Homo sapiens: one gene and its partners. Each later gene encodes a partner of the first gene's protein in a complex. Links are inferred from orthologs where the notes say so. Each region holds a gene or a part of one and is shown on either strand. Other genes may lie near its edges.

Region 1 (7,678 bases):
TGGCAATTGGGGAAAAGAATAGATGGTTTGTACTAGGGCCTCTTGGGTTCTGTGTGTGTGTGTGTGTGTGTGTGTGTGTGTCATGAAAACAGTTACTTTTTAGCTACCAAGCATTTTTTCTCCTTTCAGTAACCCACCTAACAACATTTACTCAGAATTTCAAAGCAAGCTTCAAATCAGTATTGAAAGAAGGAAAAATATAAAGGCATTTAATGGAAGAAAATGTTGGGAATAAAGTATAGGGCTGGCAACACTTACTTTTCTCACTTATTGAGAGTAATTTTACTTGGGAATTTATGAGAGAGAAAGACATTATGATTGCTCCAGGTAACTACTGGCAGAGGAACCATAGTCTTGGGGATAGACAAATGTGGCTGAGTTCATATAGAATGAGGGGATGGGATGTAAATTCTGTCAGCTGTTCCAGCAGTAACCTGTAATGTAGGCTAAAAATACAGATTTTGAGATTTATTTAATCAGAATCCCTGGAGTGTTAATTTTTATATCAAGATCTCATAGTGTTTTATTTGAAGTGACAGGGAGGTCTGTAGATAGCTGGACATGTATGGGACTGGAAGCTTAGGAATCTTTAAGTTCTTCCAGGTTATTCTTATGTTCATTTGTTTATTCTGAAAATAGCATCTAATGTATTTTAAGAAATGGAATAGGCACATAGTATACATTGGGTAACACAACAGATAGGGTCCCCGTGCTTAATTCTTAGTCTTGTGAAGGTGACAAAAATACTTAAAAATATGTGATCCTAAATTAGAATGAGTGTTATGGGAGAAATGACAGCAAATAGTGATGAGAATTAATGGGGAGGGGAATTGTCTAGATGAGAGGGAAAAGGTCTCCTTGAAAAGGGGATGTTAAGTGGGACTGCAGGATGAGAGGGAACCGTCTCTTGTCTATATGAGAAGTGAGGGTTAAACGTTTTCCAGGTAGAGAAAAGGAACACCATGTGCTATGTCTTAGAACCAGGGATATCCAGTCTTTTGGCTTCCCTGGGCCACATTGGAAGAAGAATAATTGTCTTGGGCTACACACCAAATACACTAATGATAGCTGATGAGCTAAAACAAAAAAAAATTGCAAAAGAATCTCATAATGTTTAAGAAAGTTTACGAATTTGTGTTGGGCTACATTCAGAGCTGTCCTAGGCCATGTGGCCCATGGGCTGCAGGTTGGACAAGCTTGCCTTAGAAGGAAAGAGATTGGTCAGGCACGGTGGCTCACGCCTGTAATTCCAGCACTTTGGGAGGCTGAGGTGGGCGGATCATGAGGTCAGGAGATCGAGACCAGCCTGGCTAACACAGTGAAACCCCATCTCTACTAAAAATACAAAAAGTTAGCCGGGCGTGGTGGCAGGCGCCTGTAGTCCCAGCTACTTGGGAGGCTGAGGCAGGAGAATGGTGTGAACCCGGGAGGCGGAGCTTGCAGTGAGCTGAGATAGCGCCACTGCACTTCAGCCTGGGCGACAGAGTGAGACTCTATCTCAAAAAAAAAAAAAAGGGAAAGAGATTGTGGAGATCCAGGTGCTGAAGAGAAGGTCTGCATAAACAGAACTTAGTAATGAGGTGGATGGCCTGGTATGAGGTTGAGGTTAGGTAAGCAGAGCCATAACATGCAGGACTTTCTAGGTTCCTATAAGATAGTTACTACTCATGGAGTTTATTCATGCTTTATTCCAGCTTTGGAGCCATAGATACAGAATACTTTGGTCAGTTTGGAAGGCTAGGTGGGATCCAAATTCTAAACGGTTCCTCAGGGTTATACTAAAGTATTTCTATTATCTTAAAAGGATGCTGAGACACTTTCGATGGTTGTTTATCAATAGCAAAGCATCACAGTGGTGTGTTTAAAATATTAATAATAGCATTGTATAGATTAACAGTTTGAATGACCAAAAGCTAGAAGACCAGACTACTGAGATGTTACAGGCTTTTAGGAATGAAATAGTTTGCTTTTAGAACTCAATAGCAAAGGGCAGATGTCTGAGATGCCTGAAAGAATCATAGAATGTAATAATATAGGAGCTAAGGGAGCAACCAAAAACGGTTTGTGGAGGGGACAACATTGGTACCATGAAGATAAATGGAACCCTCAGAAGGCATCCTTAATTTTTGAACATAATAATTTAAGAAGCTGACTTAAAGTGACTTAAAAGGTCAGTAGGTAGCTGGAAATGTATGATACTAGAATGCAAGAGAGGCAGGCTAGAGATTTGGAAGTTTCCCTCTTAGTATATAGGGGTAAGGGCAGCAGGGAAGGGGAGGTAGAGGTGCCACAGAGTCATCTGTATGGGACTTTTTTTTTTACCCTAGAACTGCTGAATCAGAATGTGTGTGTTTTAAAGTCTCTGTAGGCCATTCTGATGGACATCTGGGGTTAAAATCCATTCTCTTAGAGTTAATAGTTATGTAAAGGGAGGGAATGAAGTCTTAAAGAGGGGAAAGAAGGTAGTCATTTCACAAATACTGAGCATCCTGATCATCAGTCTTACGCAGATCATTCTATTAGTAGCTGGAGCTACTATGAAAAAGGAACCCAACAGAGGTGATCTTTGTCTTGTAGGGAAAGTGGAGTAACTTACACTATGAAGGAGAAGTGCAGGGTACCATAAGAATTACAGCAGATAGACCTCATCTGAGGAAATAAAACAGACCCGAAAGATGAAGGAGACAAGGAAAAGTATCTCTTACTGCATTCAGAAGTGATTTAAGTTGAAGATGGATGAGCGAAGTTAATCTACTATGTGGGCATTGGGCTTCCATTTATACTCCTTTGCCAGAGTAAATGTCCCCCATTTAAGGGTCCTAAAGGATGGAAGATTGTAAACCTTGGAACACATGTTTTGTAGTCAGTGAATTGTATAAAGTCCCTGACAGTAAGTGTTTTCATGCCGTCTTTCTGGATTGTTCTTACCCCAGGAATTTACCTAGCTTCTTTAGGTCTTTAGTCAGATGTCACCTTCACAGTGAGGTGACCTAATTATCTATTTAAAATCGCAGCCCCACTCCATTATTTTTCTCCATAGCCCTTTAATATCATCTGACATACTGTATGGTTTTAGTTTATTGTATATTTTTCTGCCTCTTCCAACTAGATCATAAATTCTGAGGGTAGGAACTTCTGAATATTTTTGTTCACTGGTCTATCTGCAGCTCAGAACAGGACCTGGTACTGAATAAATATTTTTGAAATGATTGAATGGATGAAAAGAAATGAGTAATAAGAATATTACCTAAGGGGGACAGTGGAGATAACAAAGGCTTTTTCGGCTTAGGAAAGGAACAGTAGCTATTTGAGAGTTTGTCACTAGTGAGGTGAACTGGCAAAGTGAAGGAAACTGAGCAACATTCTAGAAAATGAGAGGAAATCAAATACTTAGGTGAAAGGAAGTAAACTCTGGAAATACAGAAGGACACCTCCTAAGGCTAGAACAGATATTTAGGATTGATAGGCACTTCTAGCTAATGACTAGGGCCTTATATCCTTTTTAATTTTCTAGGTGGAATGCAAGCTTTAGGACTTCACCTGACAGATCCAAGTCAACGTCTTGTTCAGAACTGTCTTTGGACTCTCAGGAATCTTTCAGATGCTGCAACTAAACAGGTAAATTCTGAGTAAACTGGTGCCATGGGAATAGAGTCAAGATGAGTATGTGCTTGTACTGACCATCTGTTTTTATCTCCATAGGAAGGGATGGAAGGTCTCCTTGGGACTCTTGTTCAGCTTCTGGGTTCAGATGATATAAATGTGGTCACCTGTGCAGCTGGAATTCTTTCTAACCTCACTTGCAATAATTATAAGAACAAGATGATGGTCTGCCAAGTGGGTGGTATAGAGGCTCTTGTGCGTACTGTCCTTCGGGCTGGTGACAGGGAAGACATCACTGAGCCTGCCATCTGTGCTCTTCGTCATCTGACCAGCCGACACCAAGAAGCAGAGATGGCCCAGAATGCAGTTCGCCTTCACTATGGACTACCAGTTGTGGTTAAGCTCTTACACCCACCATCCCACTGGCCTCTGATAAAGGTAAATTGTCAAAGTAGAATTTACCTTTGTTGCAGAATTGAAAATGAAGCATCTCTAGCTGTTGGATGGCTGTCTAAGCATAGTGATCAATAAGTAGGAATTGTATTCCTTAGTAAGTAGGAAGTATGGCTGCGATAGGGGTAAGATTCTGAAATGTTTGTGTAGTCAGAACTACTTTTAGTTGATACCAATAGATTTAGTGTGGTGGGAATTTTAGGGTAAGAAAATGATTTTGTTGAGTTGTATGCCAGTTCTTCCTTCTGTTTTTCAGGCTACTGTTGGATTGATTCGAAATCTTGCCCTTTGTCCCGCAAATCATGCACCTTTGCGTGAGCAGGGTGCCATTCCACGACTAGTTCAGTTGCTTGTTCGTGCACATCAGGATACCCAGCGCCGTACGTCCATGGGTGGGACACAGCAGCAATTTGTGGTAGGTAAATTCTTACAGTGATACCTGGCTATCTAAAAGGAATGCATAAATCCAAAGGATCCTGAACTTCTTTCTTTGGTCATTGGTTCCCCCCATCCGTCTTCCTGAAGAGCTAATGACAAAGTAAATAAATAAATAATTACACATTTCTATGGCTGCAGAGAAAATAAGGCATAGTGTGGCCCCAGTGATATTTCCTTGGACACGTCCTTCACATGGTCAGTCTTACAAAGGTTGGGTTAGGTGTTTCATAAAGTGTTCTCATTTAATTTACACAAAGGCCCACTTCCTTAGGAAGAGGTAGAGTCATAATTTGAGATCAAATCTGTGTAATTTCAGAGCCTCTTACCCTTGCCTCATCATGCATTTTGACTATAAATATTTAGCAGTCCGTTTTATTATCTTTTCTGTGAGTTAAACTTTTTTCATGGACCTAAGAATATTCAGAAATAAGTAGTAGCATTTCTGTACTCTTAACCACAAAAATCTCAACCTGAAGCTTTGATACAAAGTTTGTGTCTTAAAAGTAGCTTCATTAAAAGTATAGTCTAATGACATTTCTGATTTCTCAGACTTTAAGACCTTATTAGGTTAGTTTAGAAAACAAAGATGGAGCCTACCAGAACAGATGTTAGGAATCTCATTTTGCTGGTTGCTTTGTGTATGTACTCATATTGGGGCTTTGGCTTTCTTCATTTATTACTGTTGGTATTGGCCCATCTCCATGAGGTGACTTAATAGAACGTTGAGGGCACCTTTTATTTTAAATCTCTTTTCTAGGAAGAAGAGAGTTTTTGTGTCCTTGTAAGAATCAAGTTATTTATAAAAGCTGCTAAATGTAGCAGAATAATAACCCCTTTTAAAACTCAAATCCAGAAACAGGAGAAACAGATGGTACTTACATATTGCAAAAGCTATCTTCCTTCTATACATGAGGCTGTCAGCTGAATAGTCTTGGAAGAGTGAGGAGTGAATTTTTCTGCTGGCAACTCGGTTAGTTTTAGCAGTTGGTGCTAAAACTTGGCAAAGTTTTCACCAAATACATGGAAGATATACAAAAATAGAGGGGGCATGTAAAAGAAAAACGTTGACATAGTCTGAGCATTACTTTCTCATCTTCTCTTTTTATATACCTTTTACCCAGAATGATTGGTGCCCTTACTGTAGGAAAGTTGTCTTTGGGATTCAGCGCTGTATGGAAGCTCTGTTGCACTGTGTATGGGGGAGGGGTGCTGCTTTGAATTAGTGCTGCCAGGAGGCCTCTTTTCAGTGACATTCAAGTTAATGGAATCCTTCTTCCTTCCTGAACTAATTGCAAGTTACGGGGAACTTCGGGTATATAATGTAAATAATTACAGTCTAATAATTGTTCCTCAAACTTTACAGAGGAGAATGCCCTGTTTGTTAACCATGTTTCTTTTGGCAGGAGGGGGTCCGCATGGAAGAAATAGTTGAAGGTTGTACCGGAGCCCTTCACATCCTAGCTCGGGATGTTCACAACCGAATTGTTATCAGAGGACTAAATACCATTCCATTGTTTGTGCAGGTATGTTTTAAGTGAAGTGTTCTAGGTTTTATGTCCATAAAATTTCCAGATTGTAATGACTAATAACATTTCAGAAAATTAGGGACCATAATAGGGTTACCAACATTTAATTTTATGAAAATTCCCTACATTTTTTGGTCAGTAAGAGAAACATTGAGACTTGAGAAGAGGGAGGAGATTTCACATTTCACTTTTATGGGTGCCTAGAGGGGAGAGCTGACCTGGGCTGCCAGAGGCAGGGCATAGACCCCCAACCAATTCTGGGTTTTCCAAATCTTAGATCAGTTAGAGCTGCCTCTGAAGAAAGGGTTTATAGCTAAAAAATATTATGGAAATCCAGTGCTCCAGAGCATTAAACACCCCAAGACATAAAATTCAGAGAATATTATTTACTACAGTGTGAATGCCTCTTGCACTCTGAATTGGGAATGTTTGCACCACAGTGGGGGGCTTGCCATGTTTTAGCTTTAGATTTAATTAGGTTTTGTTTGTGTTTTCTCCTTAGCTGCTTTATTCTCCCATTGAAAACATCCAAAGAGTAGCTGCAGGGGTCCTCTGTGAACTTGCTCAGGACAAGGAAGCTGCAGAAGCTATTGAAGCTGAGGGAGCCACAGCTCCTCTGACAGAGTTACTTCACTCTAGGAATGAAGGTGTGGGTAAGTAAAAAGGAACCAAAGCCTTTAGCAGATGTGTACATTGAAGTCTCAGTTTTTCCTCAAGGGCCTTTTTCTCCTTGTCTCTTAGCGACATATGCAGCTGCTGTTTTGTTCCGAATGTCTGAGGACAAGCCACAAGATTACAAGAAACGGCTTTCAGTTGAGCTGACCAGCTCTCTCTTCAGAACAGAGCCAATGGCTTGGAATGAGGTAGGGAAATGTGAGCAGTTATTTATCTGGTAGTTTCCTAGAGCAGGTATGGCAGCTTGTTCTTTCCTCTCAAAACACTTAGTACACATTCATTTGCATTGATGTTTCCCTGGCTTGAGTATTTCTTCTTTATGCTGTCTAGCAACTGCTCTGAGGAAGAACTATAATACAAGCTTTAAAGAGTCTGTTCAGAATCATTACAAATAAGTTGTGTTATTTAAAATTATAATTCATAAGGGAGAAAGATGAAAAATGTTACCAGATTAAAGAAGATTTTTCAAAAGGATGTAAGGAAAGAGGCAGTGTTAAACACTGTTAAGAGGACAGTTTATCAGTATTTTTTACTAAACTTTAATAAAACTTTTCTATTTGAATTTCTGCTATGAATTTTTCTTCAGCATTTGTCCTCAGTACAGGTGGTTCCTTGAAACATTGTTTCTAATAAAACTAGAACATCCTGATATTTTATCCATTCTATAGAGATCATTGATGGTACACAGACATACAGTGGATTATGTTTGTTGAGTGAATGGAAAGAGAGATTGTTAGGTTTACAACGATGCAGCTCTTGAGACCGGAGTTTAAGATCAGCCTGGGCAACATAGTGAAACCCCATCTTTAGCTGGGCATGGAGATGGATGCCTATAGTCCTAGCTACTGGGGAGACGGGGGCAGGAGGATTGCTTGAACCCAGGAGTTAACAGACTGCACTCAGTGACAGAGCCAGACTCCAACACAAAAAAAAAAAAAAAAAAAAAGCAAATTACCAGTGAGTAGTGTGTTACTTGGGTTTTT
Region 2 (8,475 bases), on another chromosome or scaffold:
CAGAGGAGGCTAATCCCTCCATCTGTTCCTAGATCCCTTTCTGTCCTGTCTTCTCAGGAACTGTTGCCATCATTATCCTCTTTCTTTCATCCTTAGCCTTTCTCTAATGGATCCTTTCTATCAGCATTTAAATATGCTCAAGTATCTCACTTCATTTTATTCCCCAAGTTTAAATTTTGGAAAATTTCAAACCCTCAGAAAAGTTGCAAGAAGAGTACAACGAATTCCTACAACCCTTCACTTAGATCCATCAATTTTCCTTTTTTTTTTTTTGAGACAGAGTCTCTCTTTGTCACCCAGGCTGGAGTGCAGTGGTGCAATCTCGGCTCACTGCAACCTCCATCTCCCGGGTTCAAGGGGTTCTCCTGCCTCAGCCTTCCATGTAGCTGGGATTAGAGGCACACACCACCATGCCTGGCTAATTTTTTGTATTTTTAATAGAGACACCATTTCACCTTGTTGGCTAGGCTGGTCTGGAACTCTTGACCTCAAGTGATCTGCCCACCTTGGCCTCCCAAAGTACTGGGATTATAAATGTGAGCCACCACACCCAGTCAGATCCATCAATTCTTAACATTTTGCCACGTTCGCTTTAGTTGTCTTTCTCCCTCCCTTCCTCCTTCCCTCTTTCTCTCTCACTCCACATAGACACCTTCCTTATTTCCTAAACCAATTGAGAGTTAGCTGCAGGTATCATAACATTTCACCCTAAATACTTCAGCATGTATCATCTAAGACATTCTCTGATTTTCTTATTCTCACAGTTATCACACTCAGAAAACTTAACATTGATAAAATACTGTTATCTAATACACAGCCCATATTCAGTTTTTCCCTGACTGTTTCACTAATGTCTTTATTTATTTAATTTTATTTTTTTAAGAGCTGGGCATGGGGCATGGTGGCTCACGCCTGTAATCCCAGCATTTTGGGAAGCCGAGGCGAGTGGATCACTTGAGGTCAGGAGTTCAAGACCAGCCTCGCCATCATGGTGAAACCCTGTCTCTACTAAAAATACAGAAATTAGGCTGGGCGCGGTGGCTCACGCCTGTAATCCCAGCACTTTGGGAGGCTGAGGCGGGTGGATCATGAGGTCAGGAGATAGAGATCATCCTGGCTAACACAGAGAAACCCCGTCTCTACTAAATATACAAAAAATTAGCCAGGCGAGGTGGCAGGTGCCTGTAGTCCCAGCTACTTGGGAGGCTGAGGCAGGAGAATGGCGTGAACCTGGGAGGCAGAGCTTGCAGTGAGCCGAGATCGCACCACTGTACTCCAGCCTGGGCAACAGAGCGCGACTCAGTCTCAAAAAAGAGAGAGAGAGACAAGGTCTTGCCAGGTTGCCAACCTGGTCTTGAACTTCTGGGCTCAAGAGATCCTCCTGCCTTGGCTTCCCACACCTGTGTGTAAGCCACTGCACCTGGCCCTATTAATGCCTTTTATAGCTGTTTTCTCTGCTGTGTATCAGTGTCAGTGTATGTGTGTTGTTCCTGTGTCCAATCAGGGATCATTCATTGCATTTAGTTGCCATGCTTCTTCAATTTCCTTTGAACTAAAATCTTCCTTCTTTCAGACAAAACAATGCTTTCCTTAGACTCTCAACTTCTACATCCCACCACTGTGCTAGCTTTTCTCTCCTTCCCTAGATAGCCACGTTTTGTAAAGAAGAGACTCAGCAGTCTTCATATCCTCACCTCCCTCTTCAACAGGCTGCAGTGTGGCATCTGCACCCCCTAACCCCTTCATGATCCTCACTCACCAGACTTTCCTGCTACCTCTCTGGTCACTTCTTGGGCTACTTTGTAGGCTCCTCTTCCTGTGCTCGTCCTATAAATCTTACAGTTCTTTAGGACCCTGTCCTAGTCCTGTTGCTCTTTCCACTGTTTATGCTTTCCCTGGGTGATTTCTTTTCTTTCTTTATTTTATTTATTTATTTTTTTGAGACAGAGTCTTGCTCTGCCACCCAGGCTGGAGTGCAGTGGTGTGATCTCGGCTCACTGCAACCTCCACCTTCTGGGTTCAAGCGATTCTCCTGCATCAGCCTCCTGAGTAACTAGGACTACAGGTGAGCACCACCCCACCCAGCTAATTTTGTATTTTTCATAGAGATGGGGTTTCACCATGTTGGCTAGGCTGGTCTCGAACTCCTGACCTCAGGTAATCCACCTGCCTCAGCCTCCCAAAGTGCTGGGATTTCCAGTGTGAGTCACCATGCCCAGCTCCCTGGATGATTTCATTCTTTTCGGGGGAAGAAGCGGGAGTGGAGTTTCATTTACCACCTACATGCTGGAATCCCTATTTGTAGCCCAGGTCTTTCCCTCCAACTTCAGTTTCAAATCTCCAATGGCCTCCTCAACATCTGAATCCACTTAGAAATCTCACAGGCACCTTGAAGCAATATGTCCAAAAAGAGAACTGATTATCCTCCTACCACTTCTACTGTGCTTTCTGTCAAAAAAAAGAAAAAAATACATATATATGGCATCCCTCATTCATTACCTGAGCCAGATACATAGAAGTCATCTTTGACACATCCTTTTGACATCATCCATGACACATCTAATCAATCACCATACTCCACTGATTCTATCTTCTTAGTATCTCTGGAATCCATCTACTTCTTTCTGTTCTCACCACCACATTCAGGCTGCCATCATCTCTCCCAGGAATATTTCAGCAACCTCATAATCCTTTCCCCAAGCTTCCAGCTGTGCTCCATTTTAATCTCTCCTCCACCCTGGACTCTGAGTGATTTTCTGAAAATGCAAATCTGACCATTTTTTAAATTGTTCAGCTAGTTTCTCACAGCTCTCAGGATACAGTCTAAATGACTGAACTTGGCCTATAAGCTGGAGTGAAAGTCAAGGTATTTTATATCTGGTAAGGTACAGGCCCTGATGCCAGTTTAGAAAGCATGTCAGCTGATTTATCTGACCAGTTTATGCCGGCTAAATAATGGCTTGCCTATAGAGCCCCATACTCTTCTGCAGTCTCATCTAGGGCCACTCTTCCTCTAAAGTCCCACTGATCTTGTTTTGGTTCTCAGAATCAATCACCAAAAATGCAGTTACCTTTGCCTGGAATACTCTTTTCCAGTGGCTGCACCATCATCCCACCTTATCTTTTCATTTATTTATTTATTTATTTTTTTTGTAACTCCATCCTGTTACTGCCTTAGTCCTCTGAAAACCTCCAGCTAGTTTTCATACGAATGCGTTTGAAGTCTTCTCCATTTTGCACTTGTGTAGAATTTTTTTAAAAATTCAAGAACAAAACTTTTTATTAACTGAAAGCCTATTATGTATTAAGTATCATGCTGAGTTTTGTGGATATAGGGGCTAGGACAAAGTATCAACAGAGTAAAAGTGTAAGCTCCACGAGGAAATAACTGGGTCTGTCTTGTTCATTAATGAATCCCCATTCCTTTTTCTTTTTGTTTAATTAATTACTTTTATTTTTATTTCAATAGTTTTTGGGGTACAAGTGGTTTTTGGTTATATAGATGAATTATAGTGGTGAAGTCTGATATTTTAGCCACCCAAGTAGTGATGAATCCCTATTTCTTGAGATGATGTCTGCACACGGTTATATGCTTACCATTTGTTGGATGACTGAGTGAATAAGATAGTTTAAAATGGAGATTTTTTCCTATAAGTCAAAAAGTATTTTCCTAGTTCATTTATTTTATAAATTCAGATATTTTGTACAAGGCTGTCACAATCTAACTCACTTTTTTTTTTTTTTTTTTTTAGACAGAGTCTCGTTCTGTTGCCCAGCCTGGAGTGCAGTAGCGTGATCTCGGCTCACTGCAACTTCCGCCTCCCGGGTTCAAGCAATTCTCATGCCTCAGCCTGCCGAGTAGCTTGAATTACAGGCGCGTGCCACCAGGCCCGACTAATTTTTGTATTTTTAGTAGAGACGGGGGTTTCTCCATGTTGGCCAGGCTCGTCTCGAACTCCTGACCTCAGGTGATCCACCCGCCTTAGCCTCCCACAGTGCTGGGATTACAAGCGTCAGTCACCGCGCCTGGCCCTAAATCACTTTTGTTGTTGTTGTTGTTGTTATACTGTTCTTTTTCATTGCTAAGTAATATTCCACTGTGCTACATATGGAATATGCTACAATTTGTTCATACAACCACCTGCTGAGGGGCATTTGGGTGTGTGTCAGTTTTTTAGGCTGTATAACCAATTATCACAAACATAGCAGCTTAAAACAACCTAAATCACTTTTAACCAAACCCTAGAGTTTTCTCCTCCTAAGGTAGACCCAATTTCCAAAATAAACCCATATTGTACCTTTTCAGGCCAAAGAAAATATTTATATGCTTTATTTGCTGGAGGCCATTATATTCCACCGTTGAAGGACTTTTGTTAAGTACCTGTTTGACCCTTAGTGCAGGGCTTACATCCCACAGTTAGCAATAGCAAGTTATGTGCTTTTTGAGCTCTAAACACTGAGAATTTCTTGAACCGAGTTCTATTCGGCCCTGACTTGCTGTGGGGGAGAAAAGATTCCTCGGGAGAAGTGTGGGTGGCGATGGCTTAGGAGGACCTTGAAATTCCGCATTTGTCTGTGAGCTGCTGCCAGGTGCCCATTGGCCCAGCTACTCTGGGTCGCAAACCTGCAGATGCCAGATACATGAAATTTGGGGACGTTCAGCTTCCTAAAACCACAGTTAGGCAGGTCCTAGGACCCGTGATTCTTGCCACAGTTTTTCTTAGTATTTGGGCTACAAGTGAGGCATTGGCCGCCATCTTGATATCAAATGCCAGGCAAGCCGCTACTGGCGTCGCTCGGTAACCACGGAGACACCCGTGCCCCTCCCGTTTCTCATCCTTAGAGGCTGTAAACTACAATTCCCATCAGCCGATTTCCTCTGCGTAATGGCAACTTATCTAAATCTGGCTTGTGGGCAACCGCAACGCTGCCGCAGTGAACTGTGGGAGTTGCGGTTCACGGCGTAGCCTCAGTTTTTTTCCTGGGGGAAGTTCCAGAACTACAAATCCCGTGAGCCAGTGGGCTTTCGCCTGCGCACGGAGAAGCCGATTCTCCTTGGCCCCTCAGCCTGCGCCTGAGAGGTAAGAGAGGGCGGGGGGAAGGAAGAGGAGGCGGGATCCGGGCGCTGCGTTGGCTGCGGCCTGGCACCAAAGGGGCGGCCCCGGCGGAGAGCGGACCCAGTGGCCTCGGCGATTATGGACCCGGCCGAGGCGGTGCTGCAAGAGAAGGCACTCAAGTTTATGGTGAGGAGACGGTGGAGGCCGGGGAACGGTGGAGGCGCTGGCGTTGGCGGCGTCGCTGGCCTGGGCCGCCCGCCCACTGCGGGACCGGGCAGCGGGACCCTGGGCCGAGGCTGGCGGCGGAGCGGCTGGAGGGATGGGATGGGAGCTCCAGAAAGGAGGCTGGGGGTTGCGGAGCGGACCCAGGGGTGGGGGCAGCGGCTCCGCCATCTTGTGGATGAGAGGCCAAGTGACAGCGGGAGCTTAATCGAGGAGGGGGCTCCAGGCGGCGCGCGGGGCCCTGGAGGGAAAGGGGCGTGGGGACTGTTACTGAAAAGCGGAGGAAGCTCTCTGGAGAAACGCCGTGAGGCCGCTGGCGGGGCCTTCCTGGTGTCAGGGTTACCGGTAAGGCCCGGGAGAGGAGGTGCATTCACGACTGGGGAAGGGAGCGCGGGATAGAGTGAAGACAGATACGGTGGGTAGAGGGGAACGGGCAGGGCTGGATGCAGATGGATTTAAGGGTGGAGGAGGGAACGCTAGGGCTGGTGAGAGGCTTATAGTTTTGTAGAATGAGGAGGGAGGATAGCCTTTGCCTTGAGGGTGGAATCCCAGCTTGGCCAAACTACTGTTGACAAACTCTGGAAGGGAAGAGGCCTCACTAAAGAAGATAAGGACTGGGAATGAGGACCTAGGGCTATAATGACAGTCCCTGGGAGGGGAAAAGGGTGTTGACTGTAAGCTAGAATTACAAATGTCAGGGAGGGGTACATAACGCTACTTTGAAAGGAGAAGCTAAATACTGTAATAAGGACAAGGTGATGAAAAGTAAGAGCAGATTGTCAGGGAAACATGGGTACAGGAGATTGGGGCAAAATGAGTATCTAATAGGGTAAGCAAAACAAAATTTAAAGGTAAATTGTGGGACGGTAAAATGTGGAGGCCAGGTGCTTTGTATCATTTTCTGGGAAAGGAAAGGCCGTGGAGATGAGAGTTGCAAAGACCCATAAGAAGTGATGAGATCAGTTGAGAAATTTAGGAGATAAAAAGGGTGGAGGTTGGTAGAGGGAAGTAAGTCAGGGATAAGTCAGGATTTGTGGTTACCCGTCAGTTTTAGGTTGAAGCACAGTGTGAGCAAAGATTGGATTTTGTGGGTGTGCTTAAACCCCTTGGAACATATTTCTTTAACTTTGTATCACGCTTTTCTTTTTGCTGTGCTTATCTTTGGCAAACTCGTATAGTCTGATATTTGATGCTTTTAATCTGATGCTTTTTGTATTTCCTAGGTGTAAAACCAGACTTTGTGGTTACAACTAAAGAATGATGGAATGCATAGATTTTAAGCTTAACAGGTGGCCTTAGGGACATTGATATTATTTGCAGTCCAGTCTTGCTTTTTCAGAAGTTATTGTGACTTGTCACTCCAAATCTTACTCCTTTGCTTAAAAAAATAGCTATTTTGTATCTTTGCCTAAAATACCGTAACAAATCCAGATAAACATGGATACTAACAAAATTGAATTTTAGACTTTAAACTGCCCCATTTATAAGAATACTTTTTTGGAATCTAGTCAAATTCACTAAAACTTTATCTTGCATTAGTGTTTTCGAAAACACCTAATTAAAATTCAGGGGTATCATTAACAAAATTTCATTGAGCCTGAAGAAGGTTCTTGGATTTCTGCCCAACATTAAAATTCTAAATATGAAGAAGAGACCTTGAACTTTTACTGGACTTTAGAAGTAAGTGAAAGTTACTACACTTAAGTTAGAAAACTGTTACTGCTTATTTTTGTTTTCCTACTTAGAGGGTTGACTCCTTTTTTTCTTCTTTTGAGATGGAGTCTTGCTTTGTCGCCCAGGCTGGAGTGCAGTGGTGCAGCCTCCGCCTCCTGGGTTCAAGCGATTCTCCTGCCTCAGCCTCCCGAGTAGCTAGAACTACAGGTGTGGGCCACCACGCCCATCTAATTTTTTATTTTTAGTAGAGTCGGGGTTTCACTATGTTGGCCAGGATGGTCTCATCTCCTGACCTCGTGATCCGCCCACCTTGGCCTCCCAAAGTGCTGGGATTTCAGGTGTGAGCCACAGCGCCCAGCAGAGGGTTGACTCTTAATCCTAATCCTGACATTTGTGTCAGATTTATGGAATAATGTGATTTACAGATCATAAAGAGACATTATGAGATCATCCTTTTTACTCTCAGTTAGACTTCAGCCTAGTAACATTCTCAGCTACTTAATCTCTGCTTTGTACCAGTGAGTTATGTTTTGATAATGGCCTCCCTGGTTGAGTTAAAGTGGACTTGGAGATGACCATATAGTAGTTGCAGCTTTTAGAGCACCACACATTATTAAATCTTGAATCAGTTTTCATAGGGAGAAGCCAATTTTTTCTTTTAATTTTAGTTACTTTCATTATTGACCTTGCCTGCTGTTTTGGCTGCCATTTGAGAAAAGGTCAACTAGAAGAGGGTCACCAGAATGACACCTTAATAAAAGAAACAGAGAATGGAGAGTTTGAGATTGGGTATTCTCTTTCAGTGCAGTAACAGTCTTATGAATCTGAGTAAGTCACAACTTCCCTTTGGTGCCATTTACCCTGCTATAACATGTCTGTTTATTCAGAGTCAGTTTTAAGAAAGGAAGATAGGCCGGGTGCGGTGGCTCATGCCTGTAATCCAGGACTTTGGGAGGCCGAGGCAGGCGGATCACGAGGTCAGGAGATCGAGACCATCCTGGCTAACATGGTGAAACTCCGTCTCTCTAAAAATACAAAAAATTAGGCGGGTGTGGCAGCGTGCGCCTGTAGTCCCAGCTACTCGGGAGGCTGAGGCAGGAGAATGGCGTGAACCCGGGAGGTGGAGCTTGCAGTGAGCCAAGATCGCGCCACTGCACTCCAGCCTGGGCGACAGAGCAAGACTCCGTCTCAAAAAAACAAACAAACAAAAAAGGAAGATATTGGCCAGGCGTGGTGGCTCATGCCTGTAATCCCAGCACTTTGGGAGGCTGAGGCGGGCGGAACACGAGGTCAGGAGATTGAGACCATCCTGGCCAACATGGTGAAACCCTGTCTCTACTAAAAATACAAAAATTAGCCAGGCCTGGTGGCGCGCACCTGTAGTCCCAGCTACTCGGGAGGCTGAGGCAGTAGAATCACTTGAACCCAGGAGGTGGAGGTTGCAGTGAGCTGAGATCGTGCCATTACACTCCAGCCTGGGTGACAGAGCGAGACTCTGTCTCAAAAAAAAAAAAAAAAAAAA
Region 3 (7,678 bases), on another chromosome or scaffold:
AAAGCTGTCTCCATGGTTTTTAACTAGGGGCTACATCTTGTATGCACACTGATGGTTACATGAAAGTTTTGTATAGATGTCTGTGCTTGTATAGAAAAGCAGAATTAAGATAAAGTTGTTCCTTCTGCCTACCTGCAAGATAATCATTCATTGTAGTGTAAAAGCAGCACACTCAGGTTATAACTAGATTGTTCCCTTAAAGTTAACTAACTCTGGGACACTGGCCAGACTCTTGGTTTCTGGTCTTGGTTTACTTCTTTCTCCCAAGTGGGATGATTCTATTGAATAATATGCAGTACTAACTTTAGAAGCTTTTTATACTTACCTATATCAAGAAAAGAGCCATATCTGTGTGGTAGGAAATGTTATACATAAAACAAATATTTATTGACCACTCCCACAGTGCCCAATATTATGCTTTGATTCATATTAAATTTCCATAATTCTTCAAATTAACTGCATTTGCAGAATATTTTATGCACTCAGTATAATATTGCATATTATCCACAGAAGGTTATGTCTGCATACTTAGGGGTACATGATACACAGTGCAAACACTGTATTGAGTCTGTAATGTGAGTCTTGCTATCTGGTCCCCTGAACACTCTGAGTCTGATTTTATTTCAGTGATAACCTCCAGCAAGCTCTGTGCTCATAAGGATCTCTGAAAGTAGACGTTTCATCAGCGGAAAGTGTGATAGCCATTATGTCACCCTAACCTCCAGCGAGCTTTATTTAGAATGCCAGCCACACAAGCCCATGTTCTGATTCTCATAGTTGGGGCTTAGGCTGCCAGTTTCTTCTATGAAGCTAAACTCTAGAGCCTCCCTTCTTTCCATGCCCGAGTCCATCTCCAAAACAGTGCTTCTCAGATTCCTCTTTTCTGGCCTGGATCCACAGGTAGTGACCAGAGTTAACAGAGTTCTTGGGCCAGGCACAGTGTCTCAAACTGGTAATCCCAATACTTTGGGAGACTGAGGATGGAGGATCACTTGGGCCCAGGAGATCCAGACCAGCCTAGGCAACATAGTGAGACCCAGTCTCTACAAAAAATAAAAAAATAAATAATTAGCTGGGTGTGGGTGTGGTGGCATGTGCCTGTAGTCCTAGTGACTAGGGCTTGGGGGTTGAGGTAGGAAGATCACTTGAGCCAGGGAGGTTGAGGATGCTGTGATTGTGCCATTGAACTCCAGCCTGGGCAACAAAGTGAGACCCTATCTCAAAAAAACAAAACAAAACAAAACAAAACAAAAAAAGGATTTCTTTTTCTTTAACACCTTTTTTTTTTTTTTTTTTTTTTTTGAGGCAGAGTTTCACTCTTGTTGCCCAAGCTGGAGTGCAATGGCATGATCTTGGCTCACTGCAGCCTCAGCCTTCTGGGTTCAAGAGATTCTCCTGCTTCAGCCTCCCAGGCAGCTGGGATTACAGGTGCACGCCACCACGCCTGGCTAATTTTTTGTATTTTTAGTAGAAATGGGGTTTCACCATGTTAGCCAGGCTGGTCCCGAAATCCTGACCTCAGGTGATCCACCCACCTCAGCCTCCCAAAGTGCTGGGATTACAAATGTGAGCCACCACACCTGGCATCTTTAACACCTCTTCTAACAAACCAAGAGAGATTTATAGAGGAAGGGAGAACAGAGGCTTGTTAATGCTTCTCTCCTTTACTTGACCCCTCTACCAGACACAATGTCTAGGATTATCTTGGATTCAGCCTTGAGCATAAGTTGAGCTAGAGAAGGGCACATTGTCAGACTTCCACCTACAGGCCCAACCCAATCCCCACCCCCAGGGATGCACTAGGCAGGCAAGACAACTTCACTCCGCAGCTCTAGAGTCTACCTTAGGATAGAACTAGTTCTTTGAGTTGCACTTCCTCACGCTTCACCTTATTGGAACAGACTTCTTGGAAAAATCCAGTTGGCTTCAAGGAACTTCAGGAGGGCATTGTGCTCTGGGGAGGCCCTGGGGAAGTGTTGAAATGTGACCAATATGATCTTGAGAGATCAAGCTTGAGAAAACCATGTGAACTGGAACTGACCAGGCAAGCTGATAAAGGTTGTCTCTTCTTTAGTCTTTTGGGAAGCTGTTATGTATGTTTTTGTGTGGTTGATAAGTAAGAAAAGATATTTGGAGTGTAACTTTTAAACACCAAATAACCTGAATGCAGATGACCATGAGCACTTATATGAGCAGTTTTATCTGGTGATAATGTAATTGTCCCCAAGGACTTTGTCAAGCCCTGCAAGACAATCAAGTTAGCAAGCACATCCCACTGGAAGGTGATCCTAGAATGGTTAGTGATTCCCTTTTTACTTTCCTTACAGAATGATGAGTTTGAGTGAAGCTAAGGGGAAAGACAAAGGGGAACTGATATATATATATATATCCAGCGTAATATATTTCTTTCCTGGCACTGTCTCATTTAACTATAAAGTTTACTTTGTTAACCCAATTTTACTGATTAAAAAATGGAATCAGAGGTCAAGCAATTTACTCAGCTTGTCAAGAGAATGAACTGTAAATAGAACCCAAGAAATATTCTGAAATACATACTCTTTCTCCAAAGTGGTAACCACTTGTTCTTGTTGATATAAAGGAATTATGATTTAATACAATGTTGGTCTATGCAGACTTTCCTCCAATGGACATTTCGAGCTTAAGAAACATATTTGTAAGTGGCTTTTTAATCTTCATTTCCATTCCACGGTAGAAACCATATTTGGATCCTTCTAGAATTCAGAAGGGTGGCACAGGGAGTGGTGTATGGAAAGCAGAGTGGAAATCACATCTGGGAGGACTGAGGTCTGAGTGGGGTGGGACAAAGGCACTTCTGGTCCCCTACTCTGGAGTTTCCTGGAAAGGATCTCTGGAGTTTGGATGAAGTTTAGCTTGTGAATTTGTGGTGTATGGTAACAACTCGCAGGGTTACCAACAGATGGTGAGAAGGAACTGAGAGGAAATTCAGAGCATGTACTTGTTATAGAGTCAGTGAGTATGAGGAGGGCAGGGAAATCACTCAAACTGAGTGACTGAATTAGATAGCATAAACAAACATACTGTTGTACCATGAGAGGAGGGGATAGGGAAAGACAATTTAGGTGTCAATTAAAAAAAAAAGCACTTTTGACAAACCCAGCTGTGCCTCTTGCAGTGAGATATGCTAGTCCCACACCCATGCTAGCATTTTTCACGGTAAGTGCTGGATTCCTTGCTCAGGGTTTGGATGCCTGCAGCCTCTGCTTCCCGGCCTTCTGCAAGCTCCACCTGCTCCAGCGGCCTCTACAGGAATGGAAAGAAAATTGGTCGGAATCCACTGCTGGGTCCTGGAATCAACTTCCCAGTTTCCAGACAAGAAACTCTGGAGAAAACAAGTGAATCTCTCTCAAGCCTTGGCACACACTGTACACCATCTCGTAATCGCGAAAGTTATCACCATGTTGGAAAAGCCCACGCCCTTCTAATTGTGCAACCTCTGTAACTGCCCAGACCATAACACTTTCCCTAGTTCCACGCCCCATGCTTGAGTGTGACGGTACCACTGTTAAGTCTTGCCTTTCCAAGCTCCCACTTTCTTTGCTGACCAAGTGAGACCCAAATTGCTGGACTCCGCACCTCTGCGGTCCCGGCACTCTTTGACCTTAAGAATCAGAAGCTCAGGCAGGGGCTTTTCTGAAGGAAGAAGTTTGGTTGGATCCATCCCCTCGCTGCAAAAGCCGAGGAATTCTGAAGCAATGCAGGATGTTTCCCCTTCCATCAAGAAGTTTCCAGTATCGCCGGATACATTTAAATGGCAGCCTAGAATAATCTCGTGCTAAGGATTTTGTTCCTGACCCAGGTTGAAGCGGAGGAGAGGGTGTAAAGGATGCAACTGCAAGTGTTCAGCTAGTTTCACAAGGTGCTTTGTGGCCTACTAGCGCCGGGATCGTCGTTCTGTTGGCCCCGAGGCTGGACAGAATTGATTCCAATGGATGGAGTCCCAATAGTTTTGAACTGGAACTGGCTCAAATTTCCATTTCAATTACAGAGAGGAAGAGATAGATTAGACCACCTACCCGAGATTATTTCCCCTGCCCCACTCCTTTCTTAAGACCGGATCTCCCTGTTACATTCTTCTAAGGGCACCGACTATACCCTGGCGGGGCACTCCAGGACCCCTGGGTTGGGACAACGTGCTGTAAAGAAAATAAGTGAAAAGGTTCTTCAGTGAACTCTTTTTATACAAAGAGCCGTAGATTCCGATATCCAGGCCAAACTCTCCAAAAAGCCCTCCTTTCCTCTGGGGCAAGGGTGGGAGGTTGCCCGGGGGGGTGGGTGGGGGGTAGGTTGGATTACCCAGATAATTGCTTCGGCTTTCGTTTTCCTCCGCGATAAAAACCGCGCCACGCCAGATCGAGATACTCTCATAGTGATTGTGAATCAATCGCCATCCTGCTCTAGGGGCTGATGTTGATGTCTTAAGTAGTTATTCACACGTGCAGCAGAAAGGCTTTTTTTTTTTTTTTTTTTTTTTTTTTTTTTAAACAAGGCACGACTGCTCACCTATTCAGGTTTGCTTTTTTAAAGCTTCGATCAACACGACGCTCCCTGGTAATTCCTATGGCTGTACTGAAATTTAACCCGTCTGTTTCTAATACAAAGCGCTCGGGATGAGGGCGGGTGGAGCCTACGGGCGTGGGCGGGTAGCCCAGCCCTCTGAGCCAGGGAATGAAACTGGAGTTCTGGCTAAACTTTTCAGAGAAAGGCAAAAGCAGCTTCTGATGGGTTTTTCGGCTGGGAGGGGCGGAAAAATTAGGCAGACCCGGAGCTCCCGTAGGCTGAAAAACTTGCTCCTCTTCCCCCTCGGGCTATCCTGGCCTAGTAATGGAGATCTGAAAAAAATCTAGACTTCTTTCGGGGTCTAAAAGGTAGATATGTGGGACGAAAAAAGTAATTGTCCTGGTTTCTTAAAAAGCACCAAAAAGTGGGAATGGAAGAGAAGACGGGAGAAATTGTTTCGAAGGAGGAAGGTATTGCAAGTTTTGTGCAAGTTTGGGTGGGTCATCTACCCAGGCGCGCGGGGAAAGATGTGTCTGCCACACCTTTTGCGAGCCCAGGAAACTTGAACCGCTCCTGAAAATCCTGATATTTTTTCCCGCTGCAGCCCGCACGGGTCAAGCGCGCGGGGGCTGACCAACACTTTCCAGGTCAGGTCGAGTTGATTGCTCCCAGCTCACGCTCCGAAATGCGGTGCTGAACCACGGGAAGGAGGGGGTGGGGAGGAAGGCAGGCAGTTGCATCCTCGCGAGTGGGGAGTGCGAGGCCTCCTCAGCTCCAGCCAGCTGGGTGAATGGGGCGCGCACGGCCCCGTAACGCCGAGCGTGGATAAAATATGCTAGGACTGCGCTTCTCCGGCTCATCAAGGCTGCGGGAGCCTCCCCGAGCCATCATCCTTCGTAATTGCAACCGTCAATCAACACTTTAAGACAAAGTCAGAACCGGGAAGGGCGAGCCCTGGAGACCTGTCTCGTCGGAAAGAAGGAGGTGGAGGGGAGGTGGGGGAAAAGGAGAGAAGTTTGCCAGAAGTTGGCAGAGGGAGTGCAAAGAAATTGAGAACGCGCAAGGTAGTTGAGCAGAGCTGTCCCCCGGTCTCACCACAGACTCCCAGGCCTCCCGGGTTCTAGTCTCTGGTCTCCGCCACCAGTTACAATTCCCGCAGCGGTAAGTACGGGGTGGGTTCCTAAGTGTGCTTACACTAAGAGGTACAGTGGCAGTTGCTAAGATGTCCCCGGCGGAGGATGAGATGCGTCTGTCCACCCGCGGTAGGTGTATTTATGGGTCAGTGCAGACCACCGCTGGCGCCGGCGTTTAGACCACACAGACCCGGTTCCACCTACTTACATCTCAACTGCTTTCCCTTCCCGCAGCCACTTGGCTGTCTTCATATTGTGGCCTCGGGAACCCAGAACCATTCTCAAATAACCCATCTTAGACACCGCAAACTCGGGTTCCTCCTCCCACAGCTTCCTTTCGGAGAGGGCTTTCTGGGGGACGCCCAGACCCGTCCAAGGTCACTGAGCTAGCGGGTCCCCGGCTTCAACAGGGGTCCCTTGCCCAGCAGAATTGAAGGGTCAAAGGACCAGAGTGAGTGCTCAGAGGGAGGAGGGAGTTCTGAGGGAGAAGAAAGGGTGCACTTGGAGGGCAGTAATGAGCTTGACGCTGGAAGCCTGGTGCCGCCGCCCCTGCCTCTGCCTCTTGGATGGAGACCCAGCTGCTTCCTTAAATCCCTTGCAGAGCTACCTGAGGAAGGTTTGTGTGCCCTCGGGTCTCTGGCAAGAATCAATTCCAGTGGAAGATTCCTTGCCTTGTCCACTGCTGGCGGGGATCTTGACATCCTTCCAGGGGATCTGAAATAGGGCTGCCCCCAGGGAGCGTTTCCCATCGTCGAGTTAAAGGCCTGGAGCGCCGAGGGCTTAGGCTTCTGAGCTAGGAGTTCCCTTGGTTCTTAGGAAAGGTCGTTTTCTCTCGCTCGAGACTTTCTGCTCTTTCAGTCCCCCTCCATTTCGCTGCTACGCTTAGGTTTTGGCCTGGACTAGACTTTCAAAGCAAAGGAAAGGGCTTCCCTCCGTGATACAAGCTCCTGCGTTAATTTTTTAAAGCATGGATTTTTAAAACCCAGTCCCCAGCCACCGTTCCCTCCCGCACCCCTCCCATTTTGTGAGGATTTTTCTTTCCTGGAAAGTCCACCTGTGGAGAGATAAATGAGTGCCAGCTGGCCTTTTGCCACCACCACTCTCCATCTTTCGGGGATGTGGTGGGAGGGTAGACTGGCATGGACCAAGAAGTCGCTAGTGTGGCCTAAGCAAGTCCCTTCTGGCCCTGGCAGCTGGCGTTATGAGCATGGTCACAAAGCTTGTCTCACTAGGTCAGCCTCAGCCTCAGGTTCAGCCTCAAGCCAAGGCAGGGTTTCTTGATACACTACAATTTCAAGGTCCTGTCAGACCCTCTTTCAACTTCTTTCAACTCTCCTAACTTCCCCCGGCTTCACCAAGCAGAGGTGAAATCACCACCACACACTAGGGGTTGGAGGTTTCCTCTTAGGACCAAGCGTTTGGAGTCCTGCATCCTTGCCATGCTAGGGTCTGGGAAAGGTGCTGTATCATAAGTGCACCCATAAATTCTTCGCATTGCTGTGGGAGGAGGTTCTTCTTAATTAAGGCTTTGAAATAAACTGATTTTCAAAGTTCACGAGCAAAGCAGGGCAACCACTGCAGTGAGCCCTGAAACTGACTCCCTTTCTTTATTTTCTTAGTTCTCAGTGATACTTAAAACAACTAGGAATACTGAAATGTAGTGACAGTGATACTTGATACTATCACAAAAATTGGAGCTTTTGGCAACTTCAGCCCACTTCTCCATACAAACTAATGGACAGGCCTTCATAAGTTTAAATGTTTCCACGAAACCTGAAGTTGCTACTAAAGCTGAAGTCTAAATAACTTTGATCCTGAATATATATTGAAGAGCAAAATGACAAATCAATTAAGAGTCAGTAGTACCTGAATTGCCAGGTGTGGGTGGGTGATGAACAACCCATTTTATGTACATTATGCACTGCAAAGATTGGAATAATTTCCAAGTCACCAAATACCGGATTGGGCAGTTTCAATGTGTAATCTCTATACCATTCAAATAGAAT
Region 4 (7,678 bases), on another chromosome or scaffold:
TTCAAGTCCAGAGAGTCCCATTTGTGAGACCCTACCTCTGCTCTGTTAAATCACATAAGGGTCTCGGACCACAGGGAAGACTCGATCAAAATAATGAGGTTGATGAGAGCAAATCTAAGACCTGTATGGGAGTGGAAAAAATACTTCAAAAGCAAGATTTTTGCGGATTGGCTCAATGGTCTTTTTTTTAGTGTGTGGTCTTTTTTTTTTAAGACTATCTTTTGGGTTGTTCTCATGTCTTTATCAATGAAGAAGAAACTACTAGGGTCATTTCAAAAAAACTATCTGAGTAAGAACCAGGCATGTAAATGCAATATTAGCTCTGCAAGGGTTACATGTAGTATGGCTTCCTGGCACACTTAAATAAGCAAACTGGCCATAAGGTATTTGATGGGGGAATGGCAAGCGCTTCCAATTATTCTGACTATGATCCTGTCCCAAATTGTAGCAATGCCATGAAGGAGGGATCAAACAGGAAACTTTGGGGGCTCTGAGGAATTTTCCCACACATTCTCCTGACATCTATATATACATTTGAGTTAGAATAATACACTTTCTAAAACTTATTCTCCACTTGAAGGGGAAAACTCAATGTGTTTAGCTTCAAAAAGTGCACAACTTAAAATAGAAAAGTGAAAATTATTTATAGGTTAAGTCAAATTCAATAGCTTCTTGCAATAAAGTGAAAAGATACTCTACCTTAAAAATCTTGCATGAGATATAAGCCTTAGTCTCCATCTATCCTTGAATATTATTTATGTGATTATTTTCAAAGGTATCCAACAATGTCACGTACAGTGGTACATTCAGAAGCTTACTGATTAGACAAGTCCAACTTAGTTCCTTAATTCCAGATGTGAACAATGACAAAATCAGATTTTAGCTGTTTATAAGCAAGTACAAATATGCAGGGTAGGTAAGACAAAGTTATAATAGGTATAATTCTGTTTAATAGAAACCAAAGTGTTGATTCCCTTAAGGTAAAAGTCACAACAGAACTAAGTTATACAAGGTAATTAGAAAAGAACTCATGGAACATTTTCATAGCAATTTCTACTTTAAAAAAATAAACATTTTAAAAGATAGCTGAAATGAGAACACCCATATCTTTCCTTTCCCACCTAAAAATTGACTCTTAGAAAGATCACAAAGAACCAAAAACAATGAAGTTTGCAGCGCTACACTGACCAGGTGTTATTGTGGTTTGATGTGACTGAGCTGCAACGTTTGCTGCAGCTTCCTGCACTGTGTTGCTTTTCCCTCCCCAAGCATCTGAAGAGAAATGAGATGTTTCTTTTCTAAGGTGTTAAACATTTGGGTTGCATGCGGGACAAATGGAAGATTGACGCCTAAGATGAATAACCACAGTGCATTAGGCCAGTGGGAACTTTCACTACATTAAAGCTGGCCAAGCTCACCATTCACACGGTGTTCAGGCACACAACTGCCAGAGCCAAACTAGGGATGTAAAGAACTATTTTTTTCTTTTAATACTTTACCATTGGCCTACAGGGATTTTCATAAATAAAGTTCAGAGAACGAAAGGTTTGGGAGTATGCTTTTAATAAACTCTCCAGGGTCCTGGCTCTAAAATATTTAACAGGCTTCTGCATCTTCTCTTCACTCTCTGTGAAGAAGACCAACTCAAGCCAAAGTTTACTATGCCCTAAGAACTCACGCTGACACCAAATATGTCATGATAGGTGCTTTCTTCTTAGACCCAATTTATCTGAACTAAGAATTCTTATTTAAAATTCTGTGAGAGACCCATTCATAAGATTTCTGGTATAGACACATTCACACCCCTAAGGATTCCAGTTCTAGAAGGATGTAATTTGCCAATTAAAATTCCCCTTGAGAAGAAAAAAAGCTGAGTAGGTGAAAGTGGTGCTCCTGAACAGGTAATACTGTATATTGGTCATAGGTAAAATCTGTTCCAGGATACACACAGTAGCATTTGTCTAAAAAATAAGCAAAAGCATATGCACTTTTTATAATTAGATTCCAGCAGAAACATTTCTCTGCATGCCAGTTGGCCATAGCTGGTATCCTCTGGATTGTCTGCAGTTAGATACAAACAGAAGACTGTTTAGGGAAGGAGTGGTCAGGTCCCTCCCCCACCCCAGGTGTTTTTCCAGTCCTAACACTTTTGGGAAGCAGATGCAGTAAACAAGCAATTGTTTGTAATGGAAATTCAAGAAGCAGGATGCCAAGGGGATGCTCCCATCCTAAGCCCAAACACAAATGGTCACCATGCTCCTGACACCCTAGATGAAAATCTATCACTGTGGATGTTAGTGACACAAACACTCAGCCCTGCTAAGGACAGAGTTAAAGAGCAAGAAGGCAGAAGTGTGGTTAGGGGTGAAGAAGAGAGGCTGTCTTCCGGTTAGTGTTTTTGATCTCCGACACATTAAAAACAGCTGTTAGGTATTAAAAACCAAAGATTGTAACTCACTTCGGTTGGACCCTAAAAAAAAAATTTACATAGTCTTGTGGTTACAGCTGAAAAGCTTCTGGAATTGTGCAAACTGCAGAATATCTCAAGAAAACATGCCTAAAATAAATACATCCTAATATTTAACAGAATAAAGCAAAGCAACAGATAACAGGGTAAGGTAACTGTTTCCTGACCACACCTCTTTCCTACACTTTACCCAGACCAACATTTATTCTGGCCACAAATCTTTCCTAAACAATGAATGACTGTTTGATTCACTGACCTCAAAATTTTAATACATACACTAACAATAAATACCTTCTATCAAAAGATATTTTCTATCAAAATTTCAAAATGACTAGTATACTGGTAGATTGGGAGAAAAGACTGTGGAAACACAAGGCAGAATGCTGGCATAAAGAGGAAGATCAGCTTAATTTTCAATATTCTTAGGGATTGCTTATAAATACCAATAAATTTTCATTATATTGATTTTTTAAAATTACCATTTTGAAAGGAGAAGTAGCTGATCTTTTTAAGAAATAAATTCCACAAATGCTGTATACTCACAGCTGAAAAACGTAAGGCTGTTTTGTGGCTATTTTCTATTGTCACCAACACTACTTTGATTTGGAAAGATTATTTGTTATTCTGAAAATGATTTAACAGGAATCTTCAAATATTCCTTATCTAAAACATATTCTCCTTCCCTTCTCCACCCCCTCCAAAAACAGCAAAAAAACCTGCCCAAATATTAAAGAGATATCTATATATTTGTATGTTTTGTTCAAAAATTTAAAGTCTCCTACAACTTTTAAAACTCAAGCATTTATTTGAGGGGCCTCTAAATATTAAACTATTTTTGCTTTTTTAAATTACTTTTTAAGTAGGAGATTCATCCTCATCACACAGACATCTTTATCATTAAATACTTGAAAAGCCTTAAAATAAAATATGAAATACCTATTTCTTACAGCAACCATCACAAGATCTCCCTCAAGATTAGAACCCCAAGATCTCCACTTTAACTACTATATAAAAATTAGAAAAAGCTTATTCCTTAGCTGAGAGATCAAATATCCTTTAGCAATTTATTGGAAAATAATTACAATAACATCTAAATTGCAGTGCTCAAAGTGATCATATTTGATATAAGTATCATTTCAACAACTGAAGATTATGTGTAATGATAACCACAAATACTCTTGTTGATAACTGTTGATTTTGAGCCACTATTCTCTGCTAGTGAATCTTCTCACTCCCAGATTTTGTTCACTAAGGTATTAACAACGTTACTCTTCCCAGATGTTTGTGACTGATTTTTTTCAGTTGGTAGAAACACTGGGCAAGTAAGTCAAACACTATAGGTTCCATTTTACAATCTGAGATTTGACCTCCAGGGCTGTCAGTGAGACTGGAACCCTAATCCCCGAGACCCATAGACATGTGTTTTTCATTGGGGGTTAGGTGATAAAGGGAGAGTGGGGCTGGAGAGAAGGTAAATATATTGATGGGTCAGTAAAAAGTCCGTCACCAACGCTGGTGGGCTAATTCTAAGAGAGAACTCCATCACCAGCACATTTTACATCTACATACTACACAAGTTACCATTTAGGTATTTTCTCACTTAAATGAGGTTTCCACTTCCTAAGAGAAATATCATCAAATAAACCTGAAATTCTTTATAATGTTATGCATTTGCATAATGCAGTTATAATACCACTGCATTTTTAGAATTTTAAAAGTTAACTAAACCACAAGATTAAAAAAAAAAGGAACAACTTTCATTAGGGTTATCTTTGAGTGATGCTTTCTCAACAATTGACAATAAAGCAAAAATAACTCATCCCCGCCAAACCGATCCTAAGGAAACATTGGCCGATACAATAAAACAAGACACCATTTGAAAAGCCAAAGTAACATAACAAACATTCAGCTCCAAATGAGCTAAAGTAGCTCTGATTCTAGAAAGCTTGTGGGCATTAAAAGCTATACAGTCCTTACTTAGCTGAAAAAGTAAATCAATTTTTTCCTCTCATCAGCATAGAATGCACAATACTCATAAAATCAGGGATTTGTTGATGTAACTTCACTTGATTTTATAACTTATGATCTGTTACATATTTATTTTAATCAATAAGCCAAAAGCTAAAATTTCAAAGGCAAGACATCAAAGGTAGCACTGTTTTAAGGTGGCCATTCCTCATAACAGCTCTTATTTAGCAACGACTAGTTATATATAATGAAAGCATTACCAATGAGTTTGGAAAAATAAACATTCTGCCAAAATACAAATCAATTTGCACTTCTGAACATAATTTGCAACATCAGCATGTTACTTACTGTTCTCGGGATGGGTGGAGAAAGAGATCCATTTGACATGTATGGGTCGTTATTCATATTTGGCATCATTATGTACCCGGAATAACTCGAGTAGGAGGGTCCCTTGTTGTAGAGGCCTCCATCTGGATGCTTTCCTGGGAAGATCCAAAGAACAATCAATGATGCACTGACTTCCCTTTTATATTACTGTATTTTTCATCTGAAAATCTAATAGTTCTAAGATAAATCAGACCCTACATAAAAGATTTGTTTACAAAATACTGTAACTGGATTATTATGCTCTATTTTAGATTGACAGTATTTATTCTCTTAAATAGCTTAGCAGCAAACCAGATGTTTTAAAAACATGTAGTTCAAACAGTTCTTCCACTACTGACTGATGTTTTTACAAAAATAAGTGTTATCCATCTAACTTAATTTGTTCTAATACTAACAAACTGGACTAAAATATACAGAACACACACAACTTTAAAAATGTAATATAAATATATTAGGCCATCTAGCTACACACAAACACAGAGATTTATACACTTGAAATTATGTTTTGCCTTGTAGACAAACTCAAAGATTCTACCTGTGCTTGCAGATTTCTAGAAAAATTTCTAGATTCTACTGAAAGAGTTGTTATCTAGTATATAGGCAACTATCTAAATTTATAAAGGATTAACTCTGGGAGGCTTAATTTTATGTGCTACACTTAGATCATTTTGCCAAAAAATTTCTGTTCGATATGTGTATTTCTTCTTGTTAATCTGTGTAACTATCTTGTAGCTGAGGAAGAAGCCTAATATATAATTCTCTTCCCTGCTCCTGGTTGACATATTGTATGTAAAAACACTTCATTTCAGTTAGGCCAATTGTTAAGTAATTAATGGAAAACAGATAGGCTGACAAGAAATCCCTAAGGTTACTTGATTCTTTTAAAGTCACAAAGAATTCTCCTTAAGTCTAAATACATATGTATGTAATTTTAAAGTTTTTAGCAAGAATCAGAAATAGGGAGAAAGGGTATCATTTCTGATATGCACATTCCTAATTATAAGTTTTATATTTTTACAAGTTAGATTCTGCTCTGCTCATTTACTGCCGGCCTTTTCACTGTAATAAGGAACAAGAAACAGCAATTTTGCAAGTGAAAATCCACTCAAAACTATTCTGGTTGGAAAATAAATCGATATATACTGTCGTTCTTCTTAATAATATATTAAAAATACTAAAGATCTAAGCTAATTAGGATTTAAGGTAAGATGAGGAAGAGAAAAACTCATTGTAGACATTCCCTCTTCCCAAAGAATCTGGAACCCACCTGAAATCCAAGGGTCCCTAACTCATTCAAAAACAGTTTTTAAATTATGTAATATATATTAGAGGTAAGCCATAAGTTTCCTGCGTTTTCTTTACCATTAAAATAGTGGGCATAGTCTGACCTAGTCCCAGTTTCTTGAACTCAAAAGTAACAAAACACACCTATTTATACAAATTGCACCCCTTATCTGCTAAAGTCAGAAGAAGTAGAATGGGTGTCTTACCGTCATCGGGGTGTTCTCTGGCCTTGTCGTGGTAGGGCTCCTGAGAGGTTTGTGCTTGTCTGGCCACCTAACATCATGAATCCCCACACCCAAAAGAAAGAAAATCACCTTAGAGTTTGTGACAATAATGGTACAAATGTGTGTGCGCTGGTAATTCAAAGGAAGAGGTTTAGGGGCAACTCTGTTTTATACTCTGAGAGACATACGCTAGTGTTTAGTACTGCATAATCCTTTTCTTGTCAACATGTATTTTTGAGTGATTATTATCCACCCGGGACCAAAAACGTATAAATAATAACAAAACCAATAAAAATATAGTTAAATTTGGGAATGATCCACATGCTGTTCTGACTGCTGTTTATTAAACCATATCAAGGCTCCTTGGATGCCTAATATTACAGGAGTAGGAGTTAATGGGGTTGATGGTTTCGATAGCCTCTTCAACCACTGTTCACTTCAATCAGATCTGATTAAAAGAAGGCTGAAATATCATTTTGCAACTGAAAATGGCATTTAAACATAAACAAGCCAACCACTCAGATGCGGTCTTAAGGCAACTGCCCTGAGCGCAGTTACAGCAGAAGCTCCACTCGAGCTTATAACCTACTATGGCTGGCTGAGTGCAGGCTTACAAAAGTAGAACGATTCTGTGGTTAAAGGGAGGAAAATTAGAGAGTCAGGTTATAGACATCTAAAAGGTAGCCCAGTTGATATCAGTTTTGGTAATCACCATCCACCCAGACAGCCTCAAACACGTGCAAATCAGTGGTATTACTCCTTCACCCTCAGGCCTCCTCATGCCCACTTAACACCCGAGTGCTCTCGGATTCGAACGCAGTGTCCTTCACCCGGACCAGAAAATTGTGGAGAATATGAAGTGGGTGGCAAAATTATTTATGGACTAAGGCAGGACTAGCAAAATGGGTAGAAAGAGAGGCTGCTCTACAAATAGGAGAGTTTGGCAAAAAGCCTGTGTTTTGGATGTTATTCGGTTCTCTGGACGTGTGTCCTCCCTTTGACCTCCTTTTCCCAGCACACAGTAGTCACAAATCTTTTACGCGGGGTTAGGTGCACCCTACCCCCGCCCCCAGCCCGCTCAAACTGGATTCAACGGGTAAAGAACACCATTCTGTTCTCTGAACGCAGGCCCCCAGCCTTTCAAAATTCGTACTCACCTCTGCCATTGGGATAGAGAAGGCAGATCTGAGGTGTTCTTAAACGCGCTGTTTAAAACCCAAAATGTCCCCGCCCTCAAAACCACACACTTTCTTTTTGGGGGTAGAAAGATGCCATTTAAGGAAAAAAAGGTATATCCTCCAAGTTTCTTTGGAGGGAAAAGGCGTTGGTTAAATCATTCGGGTGTCAG

The links.
Region 2: the proteins of CTNNB1 (region 1) and BTRC are in contact, whole or in part, in a crystal structure (PDB 1P22), measured with the Homo sapiens proteins. Residues at the interface, in NP_001091679.1 of Homo sapiens: Tyr30, Leu31, Asp32, Ser33, Gly34, Ile35, His36, Ser37, Gly38, Ala39, Thr40; in NP_378663.1 of Homo sapiens: Tyr307, Arg321, Ser345, Leu347, Ser361, Ala385, Leu387, Lys401, Arg403, Arg426, Ala427, Ala428, Asn430, Gly444, Arg467, Gly468, Ala470, Ser484, Leu508, Arg510, Tyr524, Arg557, Phe559.
Region 3: the proteins of CTNNB1 (region 1) and NR5A2 are in contact, whole or in part, in a crystal structure (PDB 3TX7), measured with the Homo sapiens proteins. Residues at the interface, in NP_001091679.1 of Homo sapiens: Tyr306, Gly307, Asn308, Gln309, Lys312, Lys345, Val346, Val349, Gln379, Trp383, Arg386, Asn387, Asn415, Thr418, Cys419, Gln559, Glu562, Gly563; in NP_995582.1 of Homo sapiens: Ser300, Ile301, Pro302, Glu475, Gln476, Ala479, Leu482, Asp483, Tyr484, Met486, Cys487, Asn488, Tyr489, Pro490, Gln491, Gln492, Thr493, Leu501, Arg507.
Region 4: the proteins of CTNNB1 (region 1) and LEF1 are in contact, whole or in part, in a crystal structure (PDB 3OUX), measured with the Mus musculus proteins. The link is inferred for Homo sapiens from one-to-one orthologs. Residues at the interface, in NP_001159374.1 of Mus musculus: Lys180, His219, Ser250, Phe253, Tyr254, Thr257, His260, Asn261, Leu264, Asn290, Lys292, Phe293, Ala295, Ile296, Asp299, Lys335, Trp338, Thr339, Val349, Gln375, Arg376, Gln379, Trp383, Arg386, Asn387, Ser389, Asp390, Thr393, Asp413, Ile414; in NP_034833.2 of Mus musculus: Gly11, Asp12, Pro13, Glu14, Leu15, Cys16, Ala17, Thr18, Asp19, Glu20, Met21, Ile22, Pro23, Phe24, Lys25, Asp26, Gln31, Lys32, Glu33, Lys34, Ile35, Phe36, Ala37, Ile39, Glu45, Asp47, Leu48, Asp50, Ile51, Lys52.

The regions. Positions count from the first base shown.
Region 1 is NC_000003.12:41,229,827-41,237,504, forward strand, and holds part of CTNNB1 (catenin beta-1), read left to right. Parts: intron 1-3,514; coding exon 3,515-3,618; intron 3,619-3,702; coding exon 3,703-4,041; intron 4,042-4,312; coding exon 4,313-4,471; intron 4,472-5,897; coding exon 5,898-6,017; intron 6,018-6,522; coding exon 6,523-6,673; intron 6,674-6,761; coding exon 6,762-6,883; intron 6,884-7,678. UniProt on the Homo sapiens protein: Key downstream component of the canonical Wnt signaling pathway.
Region 2 is NC_000010.11:101,348,986-101,357,460, forward strand, and holds the start of BTRC (F-box/WD repeat-containing protein 1A), read left to right. Parts: upstream 1-5,179; 5' UTR 5,180-5,195; coding exon 5,196-5,243; coding exon of another isoform or gene 5,244-5,624; intron 5,625-8,475. UniProt on the Homo sapiens protein: Substrate recognition component of a SCF (SKP1-CUL1-F-box protein) E3 ubiquitin-protein ligase complex which mediates the ubiquitination and subsequent proteasomal degradation of target proteins. Recognizes and binds to phosphorylated target proteins.
Region 3 is NC_000001.11:200,030,294-200,037,971, forward strand, and holds part of NR5A2 (nuclear receptor subfamily 5 group A member 2), read left to right. Parts: intron 1-4,736; exon of another isoform or gene 4,737-4,969; coding exon of another isoform or gene 4,970-5,009; intron 5,010-6,731; exon of another isoform or gene 6,732-7,678. UniProt on the Homo sapiens protein: Orphan nuclear receptor that binds DNA as a monomer to the 5'-TCAAGGCCA-3' sequence and controls expression of target genes: regulates key biological processes, such as early embryonic development, cholesterol and bile acid synthesis pathways, as well as liver and pancreas morphogenesis.
Region 4 is NC_000004.12:108,158,785-108,166,462, forward strand, and holds part of LEF1 (lymphoid enhancer-binding factor 1), read right to left. Parts: intron 7,518-7,678; exon of another isoform or gene 7,497-7,517; coding exon of another isoform or gene 7,488-7,496; intron 6,380-7,487; coding exon 6,313-6,379; intron 4,918-6,312; coding exon 4,784-4,917; intron 1-4,783. UniProt on the Homo sapiens protein: Transcription factor that binds DNA in a sequence-specific manner. Participates in the Wnt signaling pathway. Activates transcription of target genes in the presence of CTNNB1 and EP300.